3 separate regions of the Homo sapiens genome follow, and regions 1 and 3 are each linked to region 2. Evidence: fine-mapped expression QTL. A gene starts in region 2. Each other region holds a variant in brackets. All regions are shown on one strand. Distances are from middle to middle. Region 1 overlaps GNA12 (G protein subunit alpha 12). Region 2 holds the start of GNA12 (G protein subunit alpha 12). Region 3 overlaps GNA12 (G protein subunit alpha 12).

Region 1 (10,745 bases), 73 kb before region 2:
GGAGTGCGATGGCATGATCTTGGCTCACCACAACCTCCGCCTCCTGGGTTCAAGCGATTCTCCTGTCTTAGCCTCCTGAGTAGCTGGGACTATAGGCGTGTGCCAATACACCCAGCTAATTTTTGTTTTTTAGTAGAGATGGGGATTTCACCATGTTGGCCAGGCTGGTCTCGAACTCCTGACCTCGTGATCCAGGGCCCCCCTCCCCTCCCCCCAAGTTTCCAAAGTGCTGGGATTACAGGCGCGAGCCACTGCGCCCGGCTCCACATCCACTTTTTTAAAAAGTGTAGTAAAAAACATATTGACATAAAATTTACCATCTTAATCATTTTAAAATGCACAGTTCAGTGGTGTTAAGCATATTAACGTTGTTGTGAAACCGATCTCCAAAACTTTTTCATCTTGCAAATGTGAAACTTTGCACTAATTAAACAACTCCCATTTCCCCCCATCTGCCCAGCCCCTGGTAACCAGCATTCTACTTTTTGTTTCTATGCATTTGACTACTTCAGGTTATCACATAAGCAGAATCATACTTCTGCGACTGGCTTATTTCACTTAGCATAATATCCTCAAGGTTCATCTCTGTTGTAGCTAGTATGTTAGCTGCAGTCTTTCCTTTTTAAGGCTGGCTAAAATTCCATTGTGTGTATGTACTACATGCTGTTTACCTGTTCATCCATTGATGAACATTTGGGTTGCTTCCGCCTTTTTTTTTTTTTTTTTGAGACGGAGTCTTGCTCTGTCGCCAGGCTGGAGTGCAGTGGTGCCATCTTGGCTCACTGCAACCTCCGCTTCCCAGGTTCAAGCGATTTTCCTGCCTCAGCCTCCTGAGTAGCTAGGATTACAGGCACCCACCACCATGCCCAGCTAATTTTTGTATTTTAAATAGAGACAGGGTTTCACCATGTTGGCCAGGCTGGTCCTGAACTCCTGACCTCAAGCAATCCACCCACCTCGGTCTCCCAAAGTGCTGGGATTACAGGTGTGAGCCACCGCACCTGGCCAGCTTCCACCTCTTAGGCATTGTGAATAAAGTTGCTATAAACATGGGTGTGCAAATATCTCTGAGACCCTGCTTTCCATTCTTCTGGATAAATACCCCGAGGAGGCACTATTGGATTGCATCTGGGTCTCTTCCTACTATATGGCTGTGCCATTTTACATTCCCACCAACAGTGCACAAGGGTTCCAGTTTCTCCATTCCTCACCAACACTTGTTATTTTGTTTTTCTTCTGATAGTAGCCATTCTAATGGATGTGTGGTAGTATCTCATTGTGATTTTGATTTGCATTTCTCTGACCATCAGGGATACTGAGATACTTTGCATAGGCTAGATGGCCACTTGCTTATCCTCACTGGAGAACTGTCCATTCAAGCCCTTTGCCCATTTTTTAATTGGGTTATTTAACTTTGCTTCTTGTTGAGTTGTAGGAGTCTTCATACATTCTGAATGTTAACTCTTTTCACATATATGATTTGCAAATATTTTTCCCGTTTTATAGGCTGCCTTCTCACTCTGTTGATTGTGTCCCTGTACCCACAAAAATGTTTACATTTGATGTGCTCCCATTGGTCTATGTTTTCTTTTGTTGCCTAGGCTTTTGGTATCATACCCAAGAAATCACTGCTAAATCCAGTATCTTGAAGCTTTCCCTCTATGTTTTCTTCTAGGAGTTTTAGTTTTCGTGATTATGTTTAAGTCTTTAAGCCATTTTGAGTTATTTTTTGTATACAGTATAAGAGTTGTGGTACTTAAAAAAAAATAGCTATGCTGCATTCCACTGAATAAATGTACAATCACTTATGTGACCCTTTCGATAGCCACCTGGGGGCATTTCCAGTGTTTTGCTGCCATCAACAACTGTGACATGAATACCCTTTATAGTACCCTCTCTCACACACAAGAACAACTGTTTCCCTGTCTTCTTATTTAAAATCAACTCTTGGCTGGCGCGTTTCAAGTTTTTTACTTCTTCATTTGTATTGTAACTCCTAACCTTTAAACCCTTAGCACCAGATATATTTTGGAATTCAGAAACTTTCAGATTTTGGAAAGATAACATGGTACATATGCTATGCATTACCAAATCCTCATCGTAAATAAAATCTGAGAATATTTCTACAATAACATAGATTTGTGTGTGTGAACAGTTGTACTAATGGAGACTATATTTTATTTTATTTTAGTTTTTGAGACGGAGTCACTCTGTCACCCGGGCTGGAGTGCAGTGGTACAATCTCGGCTCACTGCAACCTCCGCCTCCTGGGTTCAAGCAATTCTCCTGTCTCAGCCTCTTGTGTAGCTGGGACTACGGGCACATGCCACCATGCCTGGCTAATTTTTTTATTTTTAGTAGAGACAGGGTTTCACCATATTGGTCAGGCTGGTCTCGAACTCCTGACCTCAGGTTATCCACCTGCCTTGGCCTCCCAAAGTGTTGGGATTACAGGCATGAGCTACCGCTTACAGACCTAATGGAGACTATAAATGGCCACGGGTATGTGAGGCCAGGCTTTGCTACTAAACAAGTCCAAATTGAGTTAGATTAGGTTTTGCTGCCAAATAAGTGATCGGAAATGGTTTCTGTTTTCCAAGTTTAAATACAGCAAATGTAGTGACTAAGGAATTGCTAATTCAAACCTGGATCTCTCAGCTTCAAAGTCATGTCACTTCATCCAGTGAAGATCAGTAGCCTTCCTTTTTGAGGTCCTGGCTTAGCAAGCTACGTTTTTCCTAGTATTTCTCTGCTTCAGAGAACTCAGAAAAACACTAACTGCATTCGAGGACTGCGTGAAATGAAATCACATCCTAGAGTCCTGAGACATGCCCTTAAAATCATGGATGTAACACTCAGGAAAACAAAGGTTAGAGTAAAACCTAATGCTAATAAGTTTTCTTTCAAAATGGTTATAATGCAGTTACGTACATTTAGAAAATTAATTCAGTTATAAAATTAGGTAACAGGTGAATATGCTCTCAAGGTAAAAAAAAAACAAAACAAAACAAAAAAAAAAACAGTAAACCTATGGATAAAGGAGAGTTCATTCCCACTCATTCCCACAACTATTAATCACTGTTATCAACTTGGCATACACTTTTCTACCTTTGTTTCTGTATTTAATATGTGTATATTGTATGTGGAGAAATCTACACTTTAATGATTTGTTTGGTTTATATAAATGGGATAAACTACTACACATTGATTGTTTTCCAAGTTGGTTTTTACCCTTACCATGCCTTAGATATATTTCCTTTTCTTTGAGATGGAGTCTCGCTCCGTTGTCCGGGCTGATCTCGGCTCCCTCCACCTCCTGGGTTCAAGCAGTTCTCCTGCCTCAGCCTCCTGAGTAGCTGGGATTACAGGTGTGCACCACCACACCCAGCTAATTTTTGTATTTTTAGTAGAGACAAGGTTTCACCATGGTAGCCAGGCTGGTCTCGAACTCCTAACCTCAAGTGATCCAACCGTCTTGGCCTCCCAAAGTGCTGGGATTACAGGCGTGAGCCACCATGCCCAGCCACCTTAGAGCTGTTTCTGTGTGGACCTTCATTCCTTCTAATAGCCATCTGGTATTCTACTTAAACAGCATCACTGGCAGGTATTTACGTAGTTTTAATTTCTGCTACTACCATCAACATTGCAGAAACCATCCTCATGCACACCACTTCTGGGACATGTATAATTATGTCTGTAAGCTAGGTATCTGTAAATAGAACAGCTAGGTCAAAGAGTATCCATATTAATTTTTTAAAACAGCTCTGGCCGGCTGGGCACGGTGGCTCATGTCTGTAATCCCAGCACTTTGGGAGGCCGAGGTCGGCGGATCACGAGGTCAGGAGATTGAGACCATCCTGGCCAACACGGTGAAACCCCGTCTCTATTAAAAAAAATACAAAAAATTAGCCGGGCGTGGTGGCAGGCGCCTATAGTCCCAGCTACTCAGGAGGCTGAGGCAGGACAATGGCACGAACCCGGGAGGTGGAGCTTGCAGTGAGCCGAGATCGCACCACCGCACTCCAGCCTGGGTGAGAGAGTGAGACTCTGTCTCAGAAAAAACAAAAACAAACAAACAAAAAAAACACAGCTCTGGCCAAATTCTCTCCCAAAAAGGTTGTACCAATTTATATCCTAATGAACAAGGGTTTAAGATACCCACTTCTTTATACCCTTAACACACTGGATATTATCAATTGAATTTTTTTCTGAATTTGATGGGTGAAAAGTGATATGTCATTACATTTTAAGTCTAAGTGTTTTTGTTTTTTTAAATCATGGGGGGGCAAGTACTTTTTCAAAATTGCTTTTATAAAATTAAAGGTTTATAATAGGAAGTTACAATAAAATAGATCATAGTGACATGCAGAGCTAAGATTCAATTCAAGCTATAGACTGGCCTGGTACTGTGAGGAAAATAAAATATATCCTCAACATTATTCAACTGCATAGATAGCAACAAATAAACAAACCTACAATGTATGACTTTACTGAGGTTCACTGCCATAATATACTATAAACAGGATAACCATATGCCCCACTTGCCCTGGAGAGTCCCAATTTGAGTCAATCATCTTGGCAAAATTGTTTAATAGGGTCTTGTTTTATTTATAAACATGTCCCGTTTGGAAATTAAATTAAATGATCACACAATTTTAAATTTAGGCTCAAATTGAGGCTCAATAGCCTCTAGAACCATATCAAGCTCAAAGAGTTCAATTCTGACATAGTTCAGCTAGGCTTGTGACAGGGCAATGCTTGTCCATTGGAGTTGGCATTAGATTAAGTTAGAGTTAGCTAGGCGTGGTGGTGCACACCTGTAGTCTCAGCTACCCAGGAGGCTGAAGTGGGGGAAATCTCTTGAGCCCAGGAGTTTGAGGATGCAGTGAGCTACGATAAGCGTGCCTGTGAAAAGCCACTGAGCTCCAGCCTGGGCCACATAGTGAGACTCCATCTCAACAACAATAACAACAACAAAACAAAACAAAACAACACACAGAAAGAAAGAAAGAAAAAGAACAAACAAAAACAAAGCAACATGGATGCTTCACTGGGCAGCAGAGCTAATGGGATCCTGTGCTTGTTGCTTTGTGTTTCCACGTAGGACGATTACAAATCAGAGTTACTGAAACCGAATGCCCCTTCACTGTATACCATAGGAATACTGGCACTGCCTAAGTGCAAGGCCATCGTGCAAGATTATGGCAATGTTTTAAGATCATCTAAACGTGGACCTGGGGGTACTGCAAGCGCCAGGCTCTGATGACTCCTTGCAGAGCAAATGGACAGGGAACAGACTTAGTAAACCAAATTATTAAAATCAAAGAAAAGGCCAGGCGCCGTGGCTCACACCTGTAATCCCAGCACTTTGGGAGGCTGAGGTGGGTGGATCACTTGAAGTTAGGAGTTCAAGACCAGCCTGACCAACATGGCGAAACCTCGTCTCTACTAAAAATACAAAAATTAGCCAGGTGAGGTGGCAGGCACCTATAATCCCAGCTACTCGGGAGGCCGGGGCAGGAGAATCGCTTGAACCTGGGAGGTGGAGGTTGCCGTGAGCTGACATGTCGCCACTGTACTTCAGCCTGGGCGACAGAGCAAGACTCCCTGCCACTCAAAAAAAACCAAAAAACCAAAAAAACGAAACCGCACATAGTGAACTTGCCCAGTCTGATGACTTCTGACATATGCATACAGCTGTGGGACCATCATAACAGCCAAGATCATGAGCAAACACCCAAACAACTCCCACTGTGGC[C/T]TTATCAGCCCTTCCCCTCCCCTGCACTCCCTTCCTGCCCAGGCAACCCGTGGTCGGCATCTATCCCTCCATGTTGGTCTGCATATTCTAGATTCTCATGTAAGTCAGATCTTAGAGGACACTCCCTTCTTTGTGTGGCCTCCTGCACTTGGCACAATTCTTTCCAGATTCGCCCATATGCTGCAGGTTACCAGGTGCTCCCTTTCCTGGCTGAGCAGTATCCCCACAGAAGGGTGCACCCCAGTCTGTTCATCCATCTGCTTGTTGATGGCCACGTTCCCAATGTTCAGCTGCCATAAACATGTGTGTGCAAGTCTTTGTGTGGACAAATATTTTCACTTCTCTTTGGTAAATATCTACATGTGGAAGGGCTAGCTCATGTGATAATTGTATGTTTAACTTTTAAGAAAGTGCCCCGCTTTTCCAAAGCAGGAGTACCATTTCACATTTCTACCAGGGGTGTGTGAGAGCCTGAGTTCCCACCCCCGCCCTCACTGTGCCTTGGGTGGTCGCCTTCCAAAGGGCAGCCTCCTAGGAGAGCATGTGGTGTCTCACCACGGTGTTCAACTGCATGTGTGTCATGACTGATGACGTCGACTGAGCATCTTTTCATGTGTTATTTGCTTCAGGAATCTCTTCTTTGTTCAAATCTTTTGTCCTTTTAAAAAAATTGTTTTCTTGAGTTTTGAGAGTTCTTTACATATTCCGGATAATCTGACAAAGGACTCATATCGAGAATTCCCAAGAAAATGACCAACAACCCAACAGGGCAAAAGATTTGCACAAACCTGTTATAGAAGAGGATATCCCACTGGCCAACAGATGTACAAAAGGTGCCAAACATGCTGGGTGCAGTGGCTCACGCCTGTAATCCCAGCACTTGGGGAGGCAGAGGCAGGCGGATCACGAGGTCAGGAGCTCGAGACCATCCTGGCTAAAATGGTGAAACCCGTCTCTACTAAAAATGCAAAAAATTAGCCGGGCGTGGTGGTGGGCACCTGTAGTCCCAGCTACTTGGGAGGCTGAGGCAGGAGAATGGCGTGAACCCAGGAGGCGGAGCTTGCAGTGAGCCAAGATCGCACCACTGCACTCCAGCCTGGGCAACAGAGTGAGACTCCATCTCAAAAAAAAAAAAAGAAAAAGGTGCCAAACTTATTTAGTCAGGAAAGTTCTTACTTAGAAATGCAAAGTAAAACATCAATTGATACCCACCAGGAGGCTTAAAATCAAGAGGACAATGCCAAGTGTTGGTTAGAACGTGGACTAACTGTCCCACACTGCTGGAGAGACTATAAACCAGTACGGCCAGTTTGGAGAAATAGTTGGCAAACCCAGCAATCCCACTCCTAGGTATATTTCCAAGAGAAATCAGTGCATATATCCATTAAGAGACCTGTCCAAGAATGTTCAAAGCAGCTTTACTCACAGTAGCCAAAAACGAGAAACAAACACCATGTCTGTGAACAGGAGAAGAAATAAATTATGGTGTATTCATTTAATGGAAGGCTATAAAGAAAAAAGAAGAAAATACCAATCCACGTAGCAACACAGATGAATCTCTCAGTCATTAAGCAAAGAAGCCAGCTAAACGATTCCATTTAAACAAACTTCAAAAACAGGCAAAACACTAATCTACAGTGATGGAAGTGAAACTAGCGTGGTCACCAGGAGGAGTGGTATCAATGGGGAAGCAGCGGGAGGGACTTTCTTGGATGCTGAAATGTTCTTTCACGTGGGTGGTGGCTGTGTGAGTAGATACATACGTAAATCTCATTGTGTTGTATACACCTAAGATTTGTGCATTTTGCACACAGAAATTATACTTCAATTAAAACAAATAAACAAGGCTGGGGGCGGTGGCTCACGCCTGTAATCCCAGCACTTTGGGAGGCCGACATGGGTGATCACCTGAGGTTGGGAGTTTGAGACCAGCCTGGCCAACATGGCAAAACCCCTTCTCTACTAAAATACAAAAATTAGCCAGGCGTGGTGGTGGGCATCTGTAATCCCAGCTACTCGGGAGGCTGAGGCAGGAGAATTGCTTGAACCCGGGAGGCAGAGGCTGCAGTGAGCCAAAATCACACCACTGCACTCCAGCCAGGGCGACAGAGTGAGACTCAGTCTCAAAAATAAACAAACAAACAAAACCAGAATGAGATACCTCTACACGGCCACCAGAATGGCTATTTGAAAAAGAGGACAAGCACTGGTGATGAGGTGGAGTAATGGGAACTTGGCCTCTGCTGGTAGAGCACAAATACAAACACTGTGAAAAATCCATGAACACTGAACCCAGGCACACCTGGATGCCCCAGCAAGTCCACCCCTGGACAGCCCTGAGGGAAATGCCTACATCTCTTCACCAAAAGACAGGTTCTTGAATACCTACAGTAACATTTTTGTAATGACGCTGAGCTGGCGTCTACCCGGACGCCCATCACCAGGAGGGCAGGGAACTAAATTGCGGGACATTCACAAAATGGAATTACCATGCAGCAACAAGGAAGAACGTGCCGCAGAATTGGAAGAACCGCACAAAACGAAATGGCGACGAGAAGGAGCCAGTAACACAGGAGTAAATACCGTGTGAGGCCACAGATGAAGCAGCAACGCAGAAATACCCATTCTACAGAACAGCTGGTGTTCACGGTCAGAACTGGTTACTTCTGGAGAGCAGAAGGTGGTGTGAAGATGAAAGGGGTTCTGGGGCACAGGTCATTGTTTCCTGAGCTGGCGGCAGGTCACACAATCTGCTCAGTTTGTGAAAACTGAGTTAATATAGATGCACTTTTATTTCTATACATGTATATGCATATATACACACATGCATGCATATATATGTGTGTATATATATGTAATTCTCCAATAAAAACATTTTTTAAATGAAATAGGGAAAGGTAATAGGTAGTGGTGGGTGCGGTTTTGACTTTAATCAAGATTGTCAGGTAAGATTTCATGAAGATAACATCTGAGTCAAAACCTTGATGAGATAAAGGAGGAAGTGCATTCCAGGCAGAAGGAACAGCAAGCACAAGGGCCCTGATGGCGCTGGGAGGCCCTGAGTGTGCAGGGAGCAGCAGGAAGGCCAGTGCGCCTGCAGCAGTGACAGAGAGGAGGGGAGCAGGAGATGGGCTTGCCGAGGCAAAGGGGGGGTCCAGGTTGCTAATGTGTCGAATGCTTTAATGATATAAGGGTCAAAAAAAGTACAAGGTTTGAGAACCTACAGTCAACACGTGTCACTGAATCTTCATTCCTTTTGCACTTACAGGTTTGTCTTCCTTTTTATATAACTTCTTTCAAAGGTAAATAAAATCAGGCACGTCTAAGAATAAACATAAGTACAAAGCCCAGGGTACTTGTTTTTCCCCCCTTTTAAACACTGTCACATATTTACGCAGCTATCTGTGTTACTGAGCCACCTTCTTACCTGGGGTTGGGTTGACTCATGCACAGTGGTTGGCACAGCAGGCAGTCAAGATATGAGAGTCAATATTAATAATATTCTCAAAAGAGTATGAATTGCACAATTTAATTTACCGACATCCCTTCCCAATTTGGTGGCACCAGACGTGGCTTAAAGAGTTAAACAATTTGGACTTTTCACTATGTGATGAGTTACTTCCCCTCTACTGAGGATGACTAACATCTTTCAAGTTTTTGGATAGACAATACATGCACAGAGTACCAAATTCGTAACAGGGGAGGAGGACGCTAGAGAAACCAGTGTCTCAGCTCCCTAGCTCTCCTTTCTGTAGGCAGCCGCTGCGCCAGCTTCCAGGGTGTTGAGGTTTGATTTGAATAGGCTTAAGATATCCTTTCTCTGGTGCTAGTATGCTGCTTTTAATTTTGCAGCCTCATTTAGGGTTAGATACGGTCATATTAAGTTGATGGGAAGGAGACAGAGCCAGCCTGAATGTCCTGGGTGATGAGGATTGAAGTCATGGGGTCTAAAAAGGTTCTGGAAGACGAAGAGTGGGAACGACAAACCGAGAGGAGGAAAATCATCTGCAAATAAAGCCTCCATTGCTGATCCCTTCTATCTCAGCCACAGCAGCTCAGGAGGAACGTCGTGCCCAGTGTCTCGAAAAGGCCTGGAGCCGAAGCACTCTGCCAGCTCTTTTCATAAACGCAGAAGCAAAACAGAGCTGCCTGGTCTATGGGCATCTGCGAAACTTGGATACTAAACGCCTGTGTCCTACCCAACAGCCTGTTCTAACGTGACGGGCTTTCTTAGGAGAAGATATCTGCCATCAAACTCTGCCTATGAATTAAAGCAGAGGGCCAGGCTCCGAATCACGTCACAAGTGGAAGAGACCTCAGAGGCTCATCAGTGGCTCTCAATACAGGCCAGGCTCAGAATCACCTAAGGAGCCTCCCACAGAGCTGGCAGAGTCCTCCCCTCCCTTCATCCCTCACACTACCTGGACAGGTTACCCAGGGGCACAGGGCCCAGACCCGTACTGTGGAAAAGGTCCGTACAGCTAGGCTTAATGCAGCCATTCTGCCTGCCAGCTGGAGAGACAGAAACTGCCGGTGGCTATGGGGCAGCTCCCCTGGTGGGAAGGCCCTGGACACAGCTGGCAAGTATAGCCCTGGGGGCTAACAATGGGTCTTTTGATTTTTTTTTATGAGACTGGGTTTCACCCTGTCATCCAGGTTAGACCGCTCATTGCAGCCTCAACCTCCTGGGCTTCAGCAATCCTTGCTCAGGCTGGTCTCTAACTCCTAGGCTCAAGTGATCTTCCCATCTCAGCCTCCCAAAGTGCTGGGATTACAGGTGTGAGCCACCGCGCCCAGCCAACAAATGGGTCTTAACCAGAGTGAACACTGACTCTGGACTGGGCTTTGCTTGCCTGGTGGAAGAGGCCAGTGCTCAGAGTGCTATAGAAAGAACAGAACAGAAGACACTGCTCGGATCTGGACACCGACCGTCATTTCCTCAGACCAGGGGACACACTGTACATCCCACGGTGTCCAACAACGGGCA
Region 2 (10,745 bases):
AAATAGACAAATCCACAATTATAGTTGAGGACTCTTAACTGACAGAACTACTGAACAATCAGCAAGCATATAGAACTCAACACCACTATCAATCAAGATCTGACACATGTAGAACATTCCGCCAAACGAGCATACGCGTTTATCATGTACTTACGGGATGTTCACCAACAAAAGACCACAGAACATCTGCCAAATAGACCGTATCCTAGGCCAGAAAACAAACCAATACATTTAAAAGAAGTGAAACCATACACAGTATACTCTCTGTCCATAGTGGAGTCGAACCAGAAATCAACAAAAGAGAGACAACAGGAAAATCTTTTCTTTTTTTTTGAGGCAGGATCTTACTCTGTCGCCCAGGATAAAGTGCAGTGGCACGATGTTGGCTCACTGCAACCTTTGCCTCCCAGGTTCAAGTGATCCTCCCACCCGCCTCCCAGGTTCAAGTGTGCACCACCACACCCGGCTAATTTGTTTGTTTTTGAAATGGAGTCTTGCTCTGTCGCCCAGGCTGGAGTACAGTGGCGTGCTCTCTGTGCACTGCAACCTATGCCTCCTAGGTTCAAGTGATTCTCCTGCCTCAGCCTACTGAGTAGCTGGGATTACAGGCACCTGCTACTGCACCCAGCCAATTTTTGTATTTTTTGTAGAGATGGGGTTTCACCATATTGCCCAGGTTGGTCTTGAACTCCTGGGTTCAAGCAATCTGCCTGTCTTGGCCTCCCAAAGTGCTGGGATTACAGGCATGAGCCATTGCACCTGGCCATGACATGTATGAAATGACAAAATTATCGAATTAAAGAACAGAGGCGGGGCACGGCGTCTCACATCTGGCACTTTGGGAGGCCGAGGCGGGTGGATCACGAGGTCAGGAGTTGGGGATCAGCCTGGCCAACATGGTGAAACCCCGTCTCTACTAAATACACAAAAATTAGCTGGACGTGGTGGTGGGCGCCTGTAATCCCAGCTACCTGGGAGGCTGGGACAGGAGAATCGCTTGAACCCCGGGGCGGAGGTTGCAGTGAGCTGAGATTGTGCCACTGCACTCCAGCCTGGGCGACAGAGCAAGACTGTCTCAAAACAACAACAGAATAGATTATTCACTGCCAGGGTCTGGGACAGGAAGGGGAGAGAGTGGCTACAAAAGAGCAACATGAAGGGTCCTTCTCTGATGGAAAGGCTCTGTATCGTGACTGTATCGACGTCAATATCCTGGTTGTAAGATTGTGCTATCTAGTTCTACAGAACATAATCACTGAGGGAAAGCTGGCAGAGGGTATGTGGGATCTCTACTATTTCTTACAACTGCATAGGACTCCAGAATTATCTCAAAATCAAAAGTTTAATTTTTAAAAAAGGCATGTTTAGTTCCTAGCTCTGCCATCTGCTAATTAGGTAGCTGACTTTGAACAGATTTTAATGTCTCTATCCTCAATTTCCTCATTCACTAAATGAGGTAATACCATCTGAAGCATTATGAAAATTCAACACCATATTTGAAAGGATCAGGCACGATGTGTACAGCACACAGTCCGTGCTCTAGAAGGAGCCTGTCAACACTAACCCTCTATATAGCCACAAGTATTATTCTAAATGGTATCATTCAAATGTCCAGTACTAAAGGCACTGCAGAGCAATTTATTTAAAGTCCCTTCCCTGGCCAAGTTTAGTATTTCACACATGTAATCCCAGCACTTTGGGAGGCTGAGGCAGGTGGTTCGCTTGAGTTCAAGAGCTCAAGACCAGCCTGGGCAACATAGTGAGACCCCATCTCTACAAAAATGAGCTGGGTGTGGTGGTACACACCTACAGTCCCAGCTACTTGGGAGGCTGAGGTGGGAGGATTGCTTGAGCCCACGAGGCGACGCAAGGCCACAGTGAGCCATAATCCTGCCACTGCACTCCAGCCTGGGTGACAGAATGAGACTCTGTCTCAAAAAATAAAAATAAAAAAATAAAATAGTCTCTTCTCAAAGTGATCTGTTCGAATAAAAATGCGGGGGTGGGGGCTGAAGAGGAGGAAACGATTTTTGGTTTTAAATTGAAAGATGAATTTCTAACTTGTTATTGAAATGGTCACGACACATGAAGTGAGTTTAATATGGAACTATAATTAGTAAAAAACAAAGCTGGAAAGAAGAACTAGGATACCAGTTAACACATTTTGTTTCTGCTGATAAGAAAGTCAGTGGAAGTTAGTGTTTCTATGCATCAGGAGGTTGAGTTTTCTTTTTTTCTTTTTCTTTTTTTTGAGACGGAGTCTCGCTGAGTTGCCCAGGCTAAAGTGCAGTGGTGCGATCTCGGCTCACTGCAAGCTCCGCCTCCCGGGTTCACCCCATTCTCCTGCCAGGAGGTTGAGTTTTCTAACACGCACTTCATACAGGGATTTAGATTTCAGATTCTATGTTTCCAAATACTTTCTCCATCTACTGAGTTGGAAGAAACTAGAGACAGTCAAACTGCTATACTTTTATGCCTGCCTGGTTCTGAGGTCTGGGCAAGCAGCAACAATAAAATCAGGATCTTTAACAGAGAAGTTACAGGGCAGGCCCTGAGACAGCCAAATGCACTTGAACACAGACGCTCCCAGTGAGCTAAGCTGGGCACCTAGTCTTCAAAGTTCACGAAGTATCTGACCAGAGCTCTGACGCACCGAGAGGCTTGGAAAGAGGTAAAATGAAAAAGGGTGTTTTATCAAATTATTTTCTTCCCTTCACAATCCTAAAGGAGCTCTATTAAAATGAAACATTTCCATGAGAAGTATGTCAAGTGCGAATACTGGCCTGGAAGTCTGGAGGCCAGGATTCCAGCACAGAGACCCCAGGAAGGAGTCACTTCATCTCTAGGGCTGAGGCAGGAGTCCTTATGGGTAAGTGATACAAATGTACCCGATAGGTTTCTACGGGGCTTTGCTAAATTTAAAATCTCCCAGGCACCATAAAACCTAGTCTCCAGGCAGGTTTTCTGGCATGGCAAACTTCTCTCCGACTCTGCTTTGAGATGATTGTCCTCGCCTCTAACTTGGTTTCCCCAAAATGGGCTGGGGAAAAAGTGGTGAGGGGACAAGGAAAGGGTAGAGAGGTAGGGAGGGAGGGAGAAAGGAAGGGAGGAAGGAAGAAAAGAAAAAAGGAAGGAAGGTAGAAAGAAAGGAAGAAAAGGAAGGCGGGAAGGAAAGGAAGGAAAGGAAGGAAGGGAAGGGAGGAAGAAAAGAAAGGAAGGAAAGAAAAGAAGGAAAGGAAGGAAGGAAAAAGGGAGGGAGGACAAAGGACGCTATCTAGGTGTAAGCAAGGCTGCACTGTTCCCTCATCATCAGTTTCCTCCAGATCTTCCTTGAGGCCCTTTAACACAGGCTCACGGTACTGAGAGACTGGAACCCCGACTTTATCAACTCTATGGTTCTTTTATTTTTTTTCACTGCCACTCAGGCTGGAGTGCAGTGGCCCAAACATGGCTCACTGCAGCCTCAACCTCCCAGGCTCAACCAATTCTCCTACCTCAGCCGCTCAAGCAACTGGGACTACAGGTGCATTCCACCATGCCCAACTAATGTGTTCATTTTTGTGGCACTGAGGTCTTGCTGTGTTGCCCAGGTTGGTCTCAAACTTCTGGCCTCAAGTGATCCTCCTGCCTCAGCTTCCCAAAGTGCAGGGATTACAGGCACGAGCCATCACACCTGGCCGACTTCTACAGCTTCTTTCACAAATATGGCGAAGAGAAAAAAGGAAGCAAGAGACAGGAGAATCTGGAGATTCATTGCAATGCATGTCGAGTCACACAAAACAATTATGCCACAATGGAGGAATTCTGAACACTGGATATCTGGTGATAATGAGCTATTACTAATGTTTAGGTTTGCTAATGGTACTGCGGTTGTGTTTTTACATGGAGGCCTCATCTTTTAGCCACTCATATACATCCTAAAACGTTTCCTAATCCAACTACACAAAGTTGGATTTGCTTGGAGACCATGGGGAGGGCACAGGTGAATAGGATTGGCACAGAATTGATGACTGCTTTAGTTGGGCTGTAGGTACTTTACAGTCAATCTACTATTTTCTCTACTTTTGTATACATTTGAAGTTTTCGTATTAGAAAGTGTGGCTCACACCTGTAATCTCAGCACTTTGGGAGGCCCAGGTGGGAGGATGGCTTGAGACCAGCCTGGGCAAGAGAGTGAGAGCCTTTCTAAAAAAACAGAAAAGTAAAAAGAGACTCATGGCTGGTTCCCGTCCAGTCTCCACTGCTCTTCTTCTAAGCTCAGCCGGAGGGCACGGCCGGTTGGGCTCCTATCCCACAAATCTTCCAGTGGGAAATGGACAGATACCATTCTGCTAGGGCACATCCAGGAGGGGGCTAAGTGCCAAGCCCCCACTCCCCATCCCCAGAAGCTGGCCCGAGTTCCCACTCCCACGGTCCCCAGGCACCCTAGAGAGGGCAGAGGCAGACCGGGCGCCATGACTCATGCCTATAATCCCAGCACTTGAGGGAGACCAAGGCAGGAGGATCACTTGAGGCCAGGAGACTGAGACCAGCCTGGGCAACACAGCAAGACCCCATCTCTACAAAAAAAAACTTAAAAATTAGCTGGGCTGGTGGTGCGCGCCTGTAATCCCACTACTTCGGGAGGCTAAGGAGGGAGTAGGGCTTGAGCCTGGGAGGTCGAGGCTGCAGTGAGCTGTGAGGGCGCCACTGCACTCAAGCCTGGGAAACACAGCGAGACCCCATCTCAAAAAGGGCGAGACGGGGTGGGGCAGAGACGACGCCAGCAGGCCTCGGGGAATGGGTCGGGGGGGAGTGGGGTGCAGGCGGGGCTGGATCCAGCATCCTCGCCCCAGGGGTCCCCGCCCGCGGCGGCGGACCACGGAGGGGCCCGGGGCGGGGGTTAGCGCCCCGGCCCACCTGGGTGCAGGTGCTGGGCGGGGGGCGCGCGTCACCTTGAGGATGTTGTCGAAGATGGTGTCGCGGAACTCCAGCAGCGCCTTCTGGTCGAACTCGCGGCCGTGGATGATGCGCATCTGCTTGAGGAACGTGGACTTGCCGCTCTCGCCCGCGCCCAGCAGCAGGATCTTCACCAGGCGCCGGACCGCGCGCCGCTCGCGGGCCAGCAGCGCGTCGATGTCGCGGCTACGCCTCCGGGCCTCGCGCTCCGCGTCGCGCGCGCCGCTGCCCGCCCTGCGCTCGCGGGCCCCGCCGGCCTCGGCCGGCAGCAGGCAGCGGCTGAGGGTCCGCACCACCCCGGACATGGCCCCTCAGGCCGCGGCCGCGCCCCGCCGGCGCCCGGGGGCCATGGACGCTCCCGCCGGCGAGGGCGAGCCCGGGCCGAGGCACCGCCCCACGCCCCGCCGCTCGCCTCAGGCCGCGTCCGCCGCCGCCGCTGCAGTCGCTCCGAGGCCCGCACTCGTCGCCCGGCCGCCACTCGGGCCCGGCGGAGGGGCGGGCGGCGCCGCGTGAGGCCCGGCGGATTGGGCCGGCTGCCGTCCATCTGGCCGTGAGAGCCCTTCGATTGGCTCATCTCGCCAAGGGAGGCGGGCATCCCTTCCGGCCTCGGGGCGGGGTCGACGCCGAAAGAGGCGGGATCTTTGAGGTGAAGGCGCTTCTCATTGGACGCCCAGGCTGAGGTTCTTTCTTTCAGAATGAAAGGGAGGCGGGGTCGCCCGGGAGGCGGAGCGATCGTCCGCCATGGCCAATTATAATTGCTCTGAGTGGACATCAGACGTGCCCAACGGGCTTTGGATTGGGTGTTCGGGGGACGGGGCGTGACGAGAAGTGCCAGGTGTACAGAAAGATTCTCCCTTGGTTCCCAGATTGGGTCCGCCTGTGAGACCAGGACCTCGCGGAGTAGCCCAAAGGCTGGGAAATGCTGATAAGAGGTTCAGCTGCTCGTCGTATTCCCTCCGATGATCTTGTTTCTACACTATTTTCCTTCCAGAAACACTGGAGGGGGATGGGCCATAAATTTCAAACACATGCACCCTTTGAGAGTGGCATGGGCTTCTAGGAGGCTTTGCGAAAAGCTGACTAATCACTAAAATCACCAGAAGCTCCCCCAAAAGTCTTATGTCTCACAGTGATTGAGAGAGTGGGGTCTGGAGTTGCTGGGCCTGAGTTGGAATCTCCAGTCGACCAGTTACTAGGTGTACTAGTTGCATAACTTTTTTTAGCAGCTTTCCCCACCCCCCCCAACAAACCCTTTTGGATGTTCTTAGCTTCCGTTTCCTCATCTGTAAAACGGGGGTGTCATTGACGACATTGGTTATGGCTTGACATTGCTCAAATCGTCATGAAGATATAAACTGAGAACATGAACTTACCAAACACTTAGCACGTGAGCTAGCCCAAAATCAGCTCTTGATAGAGATCAGCTGATTACAGATTCTTGACTCTCCCAGATCTACTGAATCAGAACCTCCTAGAAGGAGCTCAGGTATCCCTTAAGATTAAAGGCGTGAGCCGCCGCGCCTGGCCCAGTGTGTAGTCTTTTATCTCTCGCCACCCCCCACCTTTTACCCTGAGTCCCCAAAGTCCAATCTCTGTGCGGTGTCTGTTAACTCTGCTGATTATTTCTTTTGCAGTGCCGAAGCTTTTTAGTTTAATTAAGTCCCATCTATTTATCTTTGTTTTTGTTGCATTTGCTTTTGGGTTCTTGGTCACAAAGTCTTTGCCTAAGCCAACGTCTAGAAGGATGTTTCCGATGTTATCTTCTAGAATGTTTATGGTTTCAGGTTGTAGATTTAAGTCTTTGATCTATCCTGAGTTGATTTTTGTATAACGTGAGAGACGAGGATCCAGTTTTATTCTTCTACATGTGGCTTGCCAATTATCTCAGCACCATTTGCTGAATAGGCTGTCCTTTCCCCACTTTGTTTTCATTTGCTTTGTTGAAGATCAGTTGGCTGTAAGTATTTGGCTTCATTTCTGGGTTCTCTATTATGTTCCATTGGTCTCTGTGCCTATTTTTATATTAGTACCATGCTGTTTTTGTGACGATAGCCTTATAGTATAGTTTGAAGTCAGGTAAAGTGATGCCTCCAGATTTGTTCTTTTTGCTTAGTCACAGATCTAAACTCCCCAGAAGGCTGGGCACGGTGACTCACAACTACAGTCCCAGCAGTTTGAGATGCTGAGGTGGGAGGATCACTTGAGCCCAGGAGGTCAAGGGTGCAGTGACCTATGATCGTGCCACTGTACTCCAGCCTGGACAACGGAGCAAGACCCTGTTTCAGAAACAAAACAAAACAAAAACCAACTCCCTGACAACCTTGAATGCACATAATATGTATTATTTGTCACTTGCTACAAATACTACAAATCATGCCATGAATTTGTATCACTTATGAGTCAAGATTTTGTAATCCTTGGAAAATGATTAGAAAGTCTTGCTTGTTTGTGGAAATGACCTCCCATAGGAGGCCAAATATGGCTGGGCACGGTGGCTCATGCCTGTAATCCCAGCACTTTGGGAGGCCAAGGCAGGCAGATTATCTAAGGTCAGGAGTTCAGGACCAGCCTGGCCAACATGGCGAAACCCTGTCGCTACTAAAAAATACAAAACTTGGTTGGGTGTGGTGGCGGGCGCCTGTAATCCCAGCTACTGGGGAGGCTGAGATAGGAGAATTGATTGAACCCGGGAGGCGGAGGTTGCAGTGAGCCGAGATCGCACCATTGCACTCCAGCCTGGGCAACAAGAGCAAAACTCTGCCTCAAAAAAACAAAAAAAAAAAAACAAAAACGGGAAGGCCAAATACTAGGTCTGGCATGGTAGCTCACACCATGTAATCCCAGCACTTTGTGAGGCTGTAATCCCAGCACTTTGTGAGGCTGAGGTGGGCAGATCACTTGAGGCCAGGAGTTTGAGACCAGCCTGGCCAACATGGTGAAACCTCCATCTCTATTAGAAATACCAAAATGAGCCAGGCATGGTGGTGAACGCCTGTAATTCCAGTTACTTAGGAGGCTGAGGCATGAGAATTGCTTGATCCCAGGAGGCTGAAGTGGCAGTGAGCTGCGATCACACCACTGCACTCCAGCCTGGGCAACAGAGCAGGACTCTGTCTCAAAAAGAAAAAAAAAAAAGAAAAAAAAAAAAAAGGCCAAACACTAGTATTGAAATAGAAGGGAGGAGAAATTGGAGAATCCAAAGAAAGCAATGTTTCTGAGACAGAAATAGGGAATTTTGAATCACTAAAGAGTGGACTAGAATTCAGAACAGGTTTTTGGCTCATCCAGTTCACACAGGGTTTATTCCTCATTCAGTTTTAAGAAATTAAGAAAAACTGATTCACAAAACAGTTTCAGCAAGTGCTCCAGACAGCACTCACAACTAACTTTAAATCCTTATAAATAAGCCAGGTATGGTGGGAGGCTGAGGTGGGAGGGTTGCTTGAGTCCAGGAGTTTGAGGCTGCAGTGAGCTATGATTGTACCACTGCACACCAGCCTGAACAACAGAACAAGACTCTGTCTCTATTTTTTTTAAATCTTTATAGCTTTATGCCTTGTGTTTATGTAATCATTAAACATTTTAAAGAGTTATTTACTTTTCTTTTTTTTTTTTTTTTTTTTTTTTTTTGTGATGCAGCTCTGTTGCCCAGGTTGGAGTGCAGTGGTGCAATCTCGGCTCACTACAACTTCTGCCTCCCAGGTCCAAGCTATTCTCCTGCCTCAGCTTCCTGAGTAGCTGGGATTACACGCACACACCACCATGCTTGGCCAATTTTTGTATTTTAAAAGAGGTGGGGTTTTATCACATTGGCCAGGCTGGTCTCAAACTCCTGACCTCAAGTGATCCACCTGCCTCGCCCTCCCAAAGTGCTGGGATTACAGGTGTGAGCCACCGGGCCTGGCCAAGAGTTACTTACATTTTTAAATGACACATTATGGCATTTTATGGGAGAAATTCTTCTGCTGTCGGCAATATTCGATTTGAGGATTTGACCAGGTCTCTGGACATCTCCACACGTGTCAATGGGCTAAGGTGCTTTAAATAAACAAGGTTATCTGCATAGTCCACAATAATCTCTTAATTATCCCTTCTGTTTGTACGGCATGCTAAAAGTTTTGAAGTACTTACAGGTGCATTATCTCATTTGCCCTCTCTACACTGCTGGGGAAAGGTGACTGCCTTACCAGTATCTGAATCCAGGTGGCTAAGCTCTCCTGGCAAGGGAAGTATGGTTAGTACACTGCAAACCCCGAACTGGAAGTCTGACACACAGCATTCTCTGTGTATAATAGGATGGAGAAAAACATGAGAACTTTGAAGTTTGGCTCCATCACCTACCAGCTGTGTGACCTTCAACAAGTCATACAGTATCTCTGAGACGTAGTTTCCTTGTCTGTAAAATCAGGATGAAAATAAAGCTGTACTACACCTTAAATAAGTTAATACAGATAAGGTCCTAGAACTGGACCTTAGCACATAACAGGCCCTCAGTAAATGGTCATATTGTTATTATTATCATCGTGGAGCTTTGGGAATCGGGTATTGCAAATTTAGAATAATAGTGGCAGGCTGGGGAAGAATCTATAAAGACAATACCTTGTATGGTATGATATTAAAAATTAAAACCTGGGAGGTGGTCTGGTCAAATAAATTAAGGTACATCCATATAAGTACAATAACATATTATTCCTGGCCAGGCATGGTGGCTCACGCCTGTAATCCTAGCACTTTGGGAGGCCGAGGTGGGCAGATCATCTGAGATCTGGAGTTTGAGACCAGCCAGGTCAACATGGTGAAACCTTCTCTCTACTAAAAATACAAAAATTAGCTGGGTGTGGAGGCACGTGCTACTTGGGAGACTGAGGCAGGAGAATCGCTTGAATCCAGGAGGCAGGGGTTACAGTGAACTGATATCGCACCACTGCACTCCAGCCTGGGCAACAGAGCGAGACTGTCTCAAAAAACAAACAAAATAACATATTATTCCTAAAAAGAATATGCAAGACTAAAATGTGTAAATAGATGGCCCACAGACATGCTTTCTTGGTCTACCAGCTGTTAAAAAAAATTGGTAGAGAGTAGGAGGAATAGACTGAATGTTCCTCCCAACTTGTATTCAGTTCCACCTCTGGAGCTAAGGAGAAGCCAGGAAGGGGGAGTCCGACAGCAGGGCCTGAAACCTTCATGTGACACGGTAAGCTCACCTGAAATCTCTAGGAAAGGAAGCAGCCACAGGGACTCTCACTCTCCAGTGGGCCAGCAGTGAGGGGATCAGGAACTCAGAGGCCTGGTATAGGGCCCAAGACGCTGGGATTCCCAATAGGAACAGGATCCCCTTAGGTCCCATGCATGCAGTCTCCTTTTGAGGTCCTAGTAGGGCCTTTCTGGCCTGGGGAGAATGTGGGTGATATGGTTTGGCTGTGTCCCCACCCAAATCTCATCTTTAATTGTAGCTCCCATAATTCCCTCATGTTGTGGGAGGGACCCATGAGAGATAATTGAATCATGGGGTGATTTCCCCCATGATTCCCCCAGACTGTTCTTGTGGTAGTGAATAAGTCTCACGAGATCTGATGGTTTTATAAGGGGAGACCCCTTTCACTTGGCTGTCATTCTTCTGTTATCTGCCGCCATGTAAGAAGTGCCTTTCACCTTCCACCATGATTGTGAGGCCTCCCCAGCAACATAGAACTGTGAGTCCATTAAACCTCTTTCTTTTGTAAATTGCCCAGTCTCAGGTATGCCTTTATCAGCAGCGTGAAAACGAACTAGTACAGTCTGAGAGCTCTGTGGGGTGAGAGGAC
Region 3 (10,745 bases), 21 kb before region 2:
GAGAATCCTTACACAGCCTGCAAGACTGTATATCCTCCCTTACCCCAGCCACCCCATGTCCACCTGCTCTCTCGCCCTCACTCACTCTGCTCTGCCCACACCAGCCCCTCAGCTCTCTCTGTGGAGACATTATATATTTCTTCACTTACTCATTATTTGTCCCTAACCTGCCCATTACGCAGACAACATGGACTCTGACTTTTGGCCACTGCTGTTATTCCCAATGCTGAAAACAGCCCCTGGCACTCAGATGTTTGTGGAACAAATGAATGAATGCAGCTGATCCAAGGTCACTCAGGATTCTGGTCTAAGCAGTTTGGTTCCAGTATTAGGACTGGGGAGGAGAACGGAACATAGAAGAAACATCTAAAGTTATGACAAATGTTGTCATCTATTAATTGTGAATAAGGAATTCTTTGTTAATTATCATCTCCTCCTTCCATTCCTCCTTCCCTCCCTTTAGTTTTATTTTTAAGTCTCCATAAGTACACTACACATGAATTATTAGTTCCAAATGTATTAGAACACCTGCTTTCATAGTTAGGAAACTAAACAAAAAAAGAAGAAAAAGTACTAGCACACTGTAAGATTGCTCTTAATGTTTCAAGTGGGACTGTAGTTCACTATAACGTATTAAAATTAATTCAATGAACACGGAATGACTCCCTACACAGCTAACAGGCATGTCAGGGTTTTGTAGGTTCTGGGGGGAGTCATCATTAAGAACATCAATTATTTACATAATAGTGTAATTCTGCCATTAAAAAACTGGCCATCTGACATAGAACAAAGTTTGTTTACCACATCAGTACTGACATCTGGGGGCTGGGGAATTCTGTTTTGGAGCGCCTCACACACTGCAGGACAGTCAGCAGCATCTCCAACCATCAGATGCCGGCGGCACCCATCAGTGTCACAACCAAACACGCCTGCAGACGCTGCCAAATGTCCCCCTGGGGAGCATAGTCTCTCCAACGGAGAACCACTGATTAGAGGCTAGACAAACTACAGCTTGTAATAAAGAAAATACAACTTATAATAAAGAACAGGAAGCCTGGTGCGGTGGCTCATGCCTGTAATCCCAGCACTTTGGGAGGCCAAGGCACACAGATTGCCTGAGGTCAGGAGTTCGAGACCAGCCTGGGCAACATGGTGAAACCCCGACTCTAATAAAAATACAAACAATATTTGGGCATGGTGGCGTAGCCCTGTAGTCCCAGCTCCTCAAGTGGCTGAGGCATGAGAATTGCCTGAGCCCAGGAGGTGGAGGTTGCAGTGAGCCGAGATCGCGCCACTACACTCCAGCGTGGGTGACAGAGACCCTAACTTGAAAAAAAAAAAAAAAAGCAAAGGACAAACGAACAAGGGAGGGAGGCGACTCAAAGTGGCCTCTCCCACAGGTTTCGCTTGCCGTTTTCACTTACTCTCTCTGACCAGCCTCACAACCCTTTCATGGTCCCCTGTAACTAGAAGGCTGTAAGGCAGGCCACAAGCCCGTGGCACGGGCAGAATTCTAAAGATGGCCGGGGGTATTCATCAATTGGGAACCTAGGTGAAAGGTCTTTGCAGAGGTAATTAAGGCTACCAATCAGCTGAGCTTAAAATAGGGCGATTATTCTGGATTACCCTGCGAGCCTGATGGAGTCACCAGTCCTTACAAGCAGATGTGGAAGGTGGAAAAGTCTGGCAGGTTCCTTGTGAGCCGCTCGCTGCTGGTTCTGAGTTGCAGGGGCTGCAAGCAAGACTGGAGGGAGGCCTCCAGGAGCCGAGGGAGGTCAGAAAAGAAACCGGACCTCAGTCCTACAGCTGCAAGGACCTGAACCCTTGCCACAACCTGAATGAACTTGGATGCCGATGCATTCCCAGAGCCTCCAAAAAGGAACACAGTCCGGCTGGAACCTTCCTGTTAGTCTCATGACACTCAGGGCAACCAACTGAGCCACACTGTGCCCAGACCTCTGACCCAAGCAACTAGGAGCTAACAAATAAATGTTTTAAGTCCCGAAGCCTGTGGTAATTTGTTACAGTGGCAACAGAAAACCAAAACAGCTGTGGAGGTGTATGTGACTCATTACTGAAAGGTGAGTTTATAAGTGAGAAACACAATAACCAAAAGCAGTCCCCTTAAGAAATTCCCTAGTCTGCATAAAAGACAAATAATCCAAATTAAAAAAATGGGCAAAGGATCTGTATAGCCATATCTCCAAAGAAGATACGCAAATGGCCCATAAGCACATGAAAAGATGCTATACCTCATTCACCATCGAGGAAAGGCAAACCGAAAACGGGATGGCTGGAATTCAAAGGACAGATAAACACAAGCACGGTTAGACCCCAAAGACGTTATATTGGTGGGAACAGAAATGTTGCGGCCAATTCAGAAACACTCGGGTAGCTCGTCAAAATGTTAAACATAAAGCAACCATTTGACTCAGCAATTCCACTCCTAGGAATACACCCAAGAGAAAACATGTTCACACCAAAACCCGCACATGGATGTTTATAGCAACATCATTCATAACACACAAAAGATGGAAAGAACCTAGATGCCACTGACTGAGGCACGGATAAACAAAACGGGGCGTAGCAAAAGGGAATGCTATTCGGCCGCTTAGAGGGATGACGATGCCACGCTACAGCATGGATGAACTTTGAAGAAACGATGCTAAGAAGTCCGTCGCAGAAGACAACATACTGTATGATTCCATTTACATAAAATGTTCAGAAAAGGCAAATCAACAGCGTCGAGAGAAATCCACGGTGTCGAAAGTGGGCTGGTGGCCGCCCGGGGCTGGGGCTGGGGCAGGAGGAAAATGTGCAGTGGCTGCAGGGTTTCTTTCTGGGGTGATGAAAATGTTTTAAAAATTGACTGTGGTGATGGCTGCACAGCTCTGTAAATAGACTGAAGTCCACTGAATTGTAGGCTTTAAATGAGGGCATGGTATGATATGTGAGTTATAGCTCAATAAAGCTTTTTTTTTTTTTTTTTTAAGCTGAGGCCAGGCATGGTGGCTCATGCCTGTAATCCCAGCACTTTGGGAGGCTGAGGTGAGAGGATCGCTTGAAACTAGCCCAGGAGACATGCAAAACCTATCGCTACAAAAAAATAAAAAATAAAATTAAAAAAGCTAAAAAATTGAAAAAGAAAGTCCCAAGCGCTGTAAAGCACAGAGCACGGAAGTGACACACAGTGTGGCAGCTGCTTGTTGTCCAGACCTGCCCCACCGGCCAGTCACCAGCTCCTGACTCACTGACCACCCTGGCCTCTGCCCTGTAATCTTCCAAAGAGGAAACTCCAACTGTGTCTTTTAAAACTTTTTACTTTAGAGACAGGATCTCACTCTGTCACCCAGGCTGGAATGCAGTGGTGCAATCACAGCTCTCTGCAGCTTTCAAGCTCCTGGACTCAAGCCATCCTCTTGCCTCAGACTCCCATGTAGCTGGGATTACAGGCATGCACCACCATGGCCAGCTAATTTCTAAAAATTTCTGATAGAGATGGGATCTCACTATGTTGCTCAGGCTGGTCTTGAACTGCTGACTTCAAGAAACCTCCTGCCTTGGACTCCCAAAGTGCCAGGATTACAGGCGTGAGCCACCGCGCCCGGCCTACATCCATGTTTTCATCAACATGGACAAAACTCCACAGGAATCACTCCCATTTCACAAAAATGTTGTCTAGGTGAAAGATGCCAATCAATTATTCTCTGGTTAATGTTCTGCTTATTCTTGGCTTAAGAATTTTTGTGATGACGCTTAGATTACAGATGTTCTGCAAGACAGGCTGAGAAACAGAATCATTCCAATCACTCCTGCTGTATCCTGAGGGGAGACTCTCCGCCTGTTCAACACAGGGACACGCTGCCTCCCGTGGCAAGGTGACTGTCTTGCTGCTGACTCGGGCAAAAAGACCATGAGAATGAATTCACCAACCAGGGTTCCCTTCCCTCGTAAATACTGTGAGAAAATGGATGTCAGTCTCCAGCTGACCGCAGAGAAATCACGGCCAGGTGTTGGCACTTACAGAGAAGAATGAATACAGAACTGCTTTAATCATCCACTCAGGAAACTCCCCAATTGTATCAATGACTCTATATAAGGAAGCGAGGCTTGCAACTCCAAACGAACTCACTGGGTGGCCCCAAGCAAAACAATTCACCCCAAACGGTGTGCCCTATGGACAAGAGAAACTCCTGCAGTTATTCTATTTTCTCAGCTCCCTGCTCCTCGTTTTCCTCCACCTTAGCAAGACAGTGATGAACAATGCTAGGTAAGCTCTTTCCCTTCCTGTGGCAAGTCTAGTAGCAAAGGGCTAGTTGCCAGGAAACATGAGGTTACACCATATTCCTGCTTAGTGGAATCCTGACCTTCATGTTACTAAAACATGAAAAATACTTTGTTTACAAGATCATCAATATTAAAATTTGGCTTTCAAGTTCCCTAAGACCTTTTTCCTGTATTTATTACAAGAATTTATTTATGCATCCAACAAATACTCAAATGCCTACTATGTGCTGCCATGGTGCCAGGCCCTAGGGACACAGGGGAATCAGACCAGGCCCTCGCATGCCCGCCCAGGCTGACATTCCAGGATGTGATGACTAGAACTATGTAAAATGTGATATACACATCAACAAGGGTGATTCAGATTACCACCAACATTTCTTAACAAACCTAGCTAAAAAACGTTAGAATGTGCTTAGCCTTCCCATTCTCTTTTAACTTTTTATCTAAACCTACAAATTCTGAAGCTTCTGTGGGAAGCTATGCCTCCTCCGAGATGTTGTTCTTCGTACGTTTTCAACCATACAGCGGCAGCGACTGGAGTGGTTGTTTTGCATGTCAGGCTTCACTGGGCAATTTCTTCAGAATTCAGAGATCTACCTACTGGAACTAGCATCTGTAGACAGTCCAGTAACTAAGAGTGGTAGTTCTGAGTTAGGTGGGCCTGAGACCTGGCACACTCTTAACCTCCCCAATCTAAGACATATCTTATGGAAGTCCCCTTCTCAAACCCTGATAAAGATTGAAGGGCCAAGCGTGGTGGCTCTCGCCTGTAATCCCAGCACTTTGGGAGGCCAAGGTGGGAGGGCTGCTTGAGCCCAAGAGCGTGAGATCAGCCTCAATCAACAAAAAGAAAAAGGACTGCAAGCCCAGGGCAGGAGGACTGCTTGAGCCCAGGAGTTTGAGACCAGGCTGGGCAACATAGTGAGTCCTTGTTTCTACAGAAAAATTAGCCAGGCGTGGTGGTGCGTGCCTGTGGTCCCAGCTACACAGGAGGCTGAACTGAGAGGATCACTTGAGTCCAGAAAGTAAAGGCTGCAGCGAGCTATGATCGCCCCACTGCACTCCAGCCTGGGCGACAGAGTAAGACTCCGTTTCCAAAAGAAAAGAAAGATTTAAAGACAATGACTTGGAAAGGAGTTGAAGGAGATAAACACTCAACCCCCTCAGTCCCTAAGAGAGTCTGCTCAGCCCCCTCCTAGATGTGATAAAAAGGTGCTCCCTAGATTCACTATCAGTCCTCTGCCCATTCCCTGGCCTCCCATTACTGGAATTCAACATGGTTTAGGAGATTAAAGACACTGAGTCTTTCAGGGACATTACAGTTACCAACCACTCTGATGGCCTTGAAGAAAGTAACTTTAATTCTCAGTAACTATTTGTATATTATTTGTAACTAAAAACGTGGGGTCCGAGGCATCATCTATGGCAGGCTTTGTTGGAGGGCCTTTTCCAGGCTTCCTGGTGTAGTCCAGAGACGGCCCCATACCCTGAAGAACCCTTCTGTCTGCTTCATCCAGCATACACACAAACCCAAGGGACC[C/T]CGCCTTCCCCAGCTCTACAGAGACAAGAGGGAACTATTTATATAAAAAGGCTACTTATCTGACTGAAGGCTGATAGCAGTAAGGGCAAAAGCGTGTTCTGACACTCCAACTTCAACCGCAGCCCCAATTCAGGACTTTGACGGCATATGCAGGAGGAGTGCTTGGGGAAGGTAACAGGAACAGAGGGCATAAGGAAGAACAAATGAGAACCTTCAAGAATTAGACAATCATTCTTTGGTCTTTCAAGCATGCTAATAATAACCCTCTGCAGATTTAGAAAAATAAAACTGTTCGGGAAGAGGCCAGTCGTTGCTTAAAAGAATTAGAACAATTCGTTCAATAAGCACTTAGGAAGTGTCTGTTACAAGCTGGAATACAGGAAAAATAAAAATGCAATACTCAATGTCAAAGGATCTTTCATTCTAGTTGGCTAGGCAAGCTAAAAAAAAAATTAAAAATTAAAAAAGCATGTTGCAGACATAATAAAGCACAAACTACCTACTAATATCTATAAAACCCAATGCAAATGAGTAAACTTCATAGAATAAAGATCATGCAGTAAAATTACTTAGAGAAAGAAGCAATGTCTTTTCTAAGACTCTTTTTCCCATGAAAATAATGCGCATTCTAGAAAACAGAGATAAGGGCAATAAAAATAAATCCCCTTTAATTAGAGAGAAACGCTCATTACATGTTAGTGTCATTACCATATGCCACCACCATTCTTTTTGCTCACATTCAAAACATGGTTCCTAAAAGATAGTTGACTCCTTTTCCAGTTGAACAGATCACACCCATGTCTGCCTGTCTCAAAAATGGTATTTTCAACATCAACACTTTCACAACATTTCTAGGATCTGACCGCTTCCCAGCATCTCCACTCCTAACACGCTGGTCCCACAGATCAGGATGACAGCCTCTCACTGCCCCCACGTCCACCTGGTCTCCCTCAGTGAGGGTGGCCAGGGCAACCCCGTGAATGTCCAAGTCAGATCCTGCCACTCCTCTGCAGAAATCCTCAGGGACAAAGAGCCCCTCACACACAGAGTTAAGGCCCGCGTCTTCCCAGTGGCCTGCACCCGCCTCTGCCCATCCAGGGGTCTCCTCCCTCACTACACAGCCATCACACTGGCTCCTCTGGGTCTGCGGAGGCCTCTGCACTTGGGGTGCTCTCCCCATCACCTCTGCAGGCGGCTCCCTGCCACCCCTGACATGGACACGCTCTCGCCCTGCTTTCTCCTGCCCCCAGCACTTGTTGCTTTCTAACATTTCATAAGACGTGCCTGTTTACCCTGTGGATCGTCTGTTTCCCACACTAGAATGTAAGCTCTACATGGCAAGCATTTGTTTCCAATGATGTATCCCGGGCACTTGATATACAGAAGGTGCTCGATAAATATCAGCTGATTCACCGACTTATTAAAAGCTGTGTAGTGCCCATCACACACCACAGTTCAATCAGTCAGCCCCAACAGGTGGCGATTAGGTCATTCCAGGATTTTAACAATGCAAATCAAACCGCAATAAAAAAATCCCTGCTGCTCAAAGCGTAGCTGAGGGCCGGTGGCAGCACAGCCATCACCTAGGAGCTCACAGACCTCCCAGGCCTACTGAATAGAATCTGCATTTGAACAGCATGGCCAGGTGACCACAGGCACAGGAAGTCCAAGAACCACTTTCCGACTAAAGACAAGGGAGGAGGCCCCTCTCCCTCAGGCCCCGTGAGGGTGAGGTCTGCACCTGCGGGTGGACAGACACCTGGCTTGCCTCCTCCTAGATCTCGCTCTGGGTAGTACCCAAGACTCCATGACCATCTCTAAACATCAGACTGCCACCAAAAGACAGGTTACAACAATTTACATCCTAAATCCAGGCACCCAACAGGAAACAAGCAGGACACTCAAATTAGGAACTAATCACAAAGGTGTGGGGGAAGCCCGAGAAACAAGACAGAAGGAATCCTGGGGCGTGGGAGGGGAGAAGAAATACTGAACCTCACTCTCTCCCCTCCCTCCCTCCGAGCTCTTGCCAGGACTTCCCACTGGCCAACCAGAAGCCAGAAAGCACAACACTCGCTGCTACAATCTATACAGGTCACCCCAAGAGCAGAGAGCTGACAGAAGCAGGAGAGAGGGCGGGAAGGGGCGGACAGAAGCTTCCCAGCATGTGCGCCCCCAGCAGTGTATGAAGACGCTTTCCTCTTTTCCCTAAAGGGGTGTGTTTTCATTTCACATAATATGAAGACGCCATGAAGAAGATGTAAACTAGGGAAGGAGGTGCTGGAGAGAAGGGAGCTATCTCAGAGAGGAGGAGAAGTGCGTTTGTGCCATCATACAGCTACTGTGGTCATTTCTGGCTGAGAAGGTATCGAGCTGATGGGAGGCTGAGGGCCGCTATAGTTTTGTAAACAGGAAAGCAGCCTTATGAAAAATGCCTGAGAAAACGTGTGCTGGCGTTTGCGTCCAGGACACTGAAAGAAGGAGGATGCAGGACAGAGAAGCCAGGGAAACGGCTGTGGTGGGGCCGCAGACACAAAGCAGCTGCGGCAGCTGAAGAGAACAAGTCTTTAGAGTACGCTCATTCCAGCGTTCATCCCAGCATTCCCACCACCCAGGGGACAACCAGCACATAGAAAGACGCTCCACACCATATATCATTAGGGCACTGCTAATTAAAATACTGAGATGCCATTCCTCACCTCTTAGGGCGGCTAAAATCCAAAACAGACAATGCCACATGGTAGCCAGGAAGTGGAGCAACAGGAACTCTCATTCCCTGCTCTGGGAATGCAAACTCCGGAAGACAGTTGGGCAGTTTCTTACAAAACTAAACATACTCGGGCCGGGGGCGGTGGCTCACACCTGTAATCCTAGCACTTTGGGAGGCGCAGGCGGGCAGATCACGAGGTCAGGAGTTTGAAACCAGCCAGGCCAACATGGTGAAACTTTGTCTCTACTAAAAATACAAAAAATTAGCCAGGCTTGGTGGTGGATGCCTGTAATCCCAGCTACTTGGGAGGCTAAGACAGGAAAATCACTTGAACCTGGAAGCAGAGGTTGCAGTGAGCCGAGATCACGCCACTGTACTCCAGCCTGGGTGACAGAGTGAGACTCCATCTCAAAAAAAAAAAAAAAAAAACCAACAAAAGCAAATACTTGTACCATATAATCCAGCAATTAACTGCACTTGAAATGAGTTGAACACTTATGTCTACACAAAAGCCTGCACACAGGTGTTTACCACAGCTTTATTCATAAGTGCCAAAACTTAGGAGTCACCAAAATGTCCTTCAGCAGGTAAATGGATAAACAAAGTGTGGTATATCCATACAAAGGTATACAACTCCATAATGAAAAGAAATAAACTAACATGCCACGGAAAGACACAGAAACCTTAAATATGTATTGCTAAGTGAAAGAAGCCCATGTGAAAAGGCTACATATTCCTGATTCCAACTACAGGACATTCTGGAAAAGGAAAAACGATGGAGACAGTAAACGCTCAGAGGCTGCCAGGGGTTGAGGGGAGACAGGGAAGGAGGGATGAACAGGTAGAACAAGGAGGATTTTTAGGGCAGTGAAACTATTTTGAATGATGCCATAACGGTGGAGACATTTGTCAAAACCCACAGAACTATGCAACACAACGAGTGAACCCTAATGCAAACTATGGACTTCAGTTAATAATATATTCATATTCACTCACAACTTTCCCAACCCTAGCACACTAATGCAAGATGTTACTCACAGGGGAAAACTGGTGTGGGGGAGGCAGGCAGTATGTGGGAAATCTGTATTTTCTGCTCAGTTTTTCTGTAAACCTAAAATTAAGTGATAAAGTATATTAATTTTAAAAAAGTGAAGGAAGCCAGACACAAAAGGTCACATATTATATGATTCCATTTATATGAAATATTCAGAATAGGTAAATTCATGGAGACAGAAAACAGATTAGTGGTTGCCAGGGGCCGGGAGAAGGAGGGAATGGGGAGTCACTACTAACGTGTCCAGATCTCCTTTTGGAGTGATTGGAACGTTTTGGAATTTGATAGAGGTGGTGGGTGAACAACACAGTGAATGTACTAAATGCTACTGAATGTACACTTCCAGATGATTAATTGTATGGTATGTGAATTTTACCTCGATTATTTTAAAAAACAGAGTGAAAACAGAAAGGTTGTATTAACGAAACTTCAGCTGGTCAGGTGAAGTCTGTGATGTCGCGTGAGAATTCAAGCACTGTGGCCCGGACTGAAGGCACCTAAACTGAGGGAATAACCACCAAACTGACTGGAAGGGAACCACAGTGGCTTCTGCATAACCACGCTGAGGACAGTGGGGCTGGGCTGGTCCGTGAGCAGTGCAGAGGACAGAACAGGACTCCTGACTGCAGTGACACCAGGACATGACTTAGAATAGGGCAGATGGCAGGACCAATGTCAGAACCACTCAGAGAAAGGAGTTATAATGAAGGAAAGAATCACCTAATTATAAAAACATACCAAAGAAAATATTCATGTATATCTATCATGAGGTATTGCTAATTAACTACAAAAACATCGCGCAAATTTTTTTAGAAGACTCAATTCAAGATTGAAGTCTTTTAACCTACTTCAAAAACACCTACATTTGAAACATTCTCCCTACCCCCGATACTTTATTTAAAATTTTTTTTAATTAATGAAAGACTAGAAAAAGGGCGTCTTACTTTACCAGAAGAGTTCTAATTTGCTCCAGATAACAGGAAAGAACTCAGGCAAGTTGGTGGCTCTTTTCCTGAAGTTACCAAGAATTAAGAAACAAGACAAGTTTCCAATTAAAAAAGAAAATGCCGAAGATGTTGTGGTCTCCTTGGCAGATATTTACACATTCTAAAAATATTCAAGATTACAAAAATTGTAAAGCAAGATTCAAACCA

Evidence for each region. PIP is the estimated chance that this variant, and not a neighbour inherited with it, causes the effect.
Region 1: its variant is fine-mapped to the expression of GNA12 in whole blood (TOPMed, PIP above 0.99).
Region 3: its variant is fine-mapped to the expression of GNA12 in left ventricle (GTEx, PIP above 0.99).

Annotation. Positions count from the first base shown.
Region 1 is chr7:2,765,679-2,776,423 of GRCh38, forward strand. The region is part of intron 2 of GNA12 (G protein subunit alpha 12); the gene reads right to left. Among named protein-coding and RNA genes, the nearest start is that of GNA12, 73 kb to the right of the region's middle. RefSeq lists a silencer at 5,768-5,912 and an enhancer at 7,249-7,298. The variant C/T (reference allele first, on the strand shown) is at 5,759.
Region 2 is chr7:2,838,919-2,849,663 of GRCh38, forward strand. GNA12 (G protein subunit alpha 12) reads right to left here and starts at 5,390. Exons shown (of 4, transcript NM_007353.3): 1 at 4,935-5,390. The coding sequence starts at 5,243. RefSeq lists enhancers at 388-557, 4,697-5,514, 5,477-5,771, 5,754-5,883 and silencers at 4,864-4,913, 5,254-5,583.
Region 3 is chr7:2,817,430-2,828,174 of GRCh38, forward strand. The region is part of intron 1 of GNA12 (G protein subunit alpha 12); the gene reads right to left. Among named protein-coding and RNA genes, the nearest start is that of GNA12, 22 kb to the right of the region's middle. RefSeq lists enhancers at 3,578-4,267, 4,268-4,957, 7,032-7,674. The variant C/T (reference allele first, on the strand shown) is at 5,828.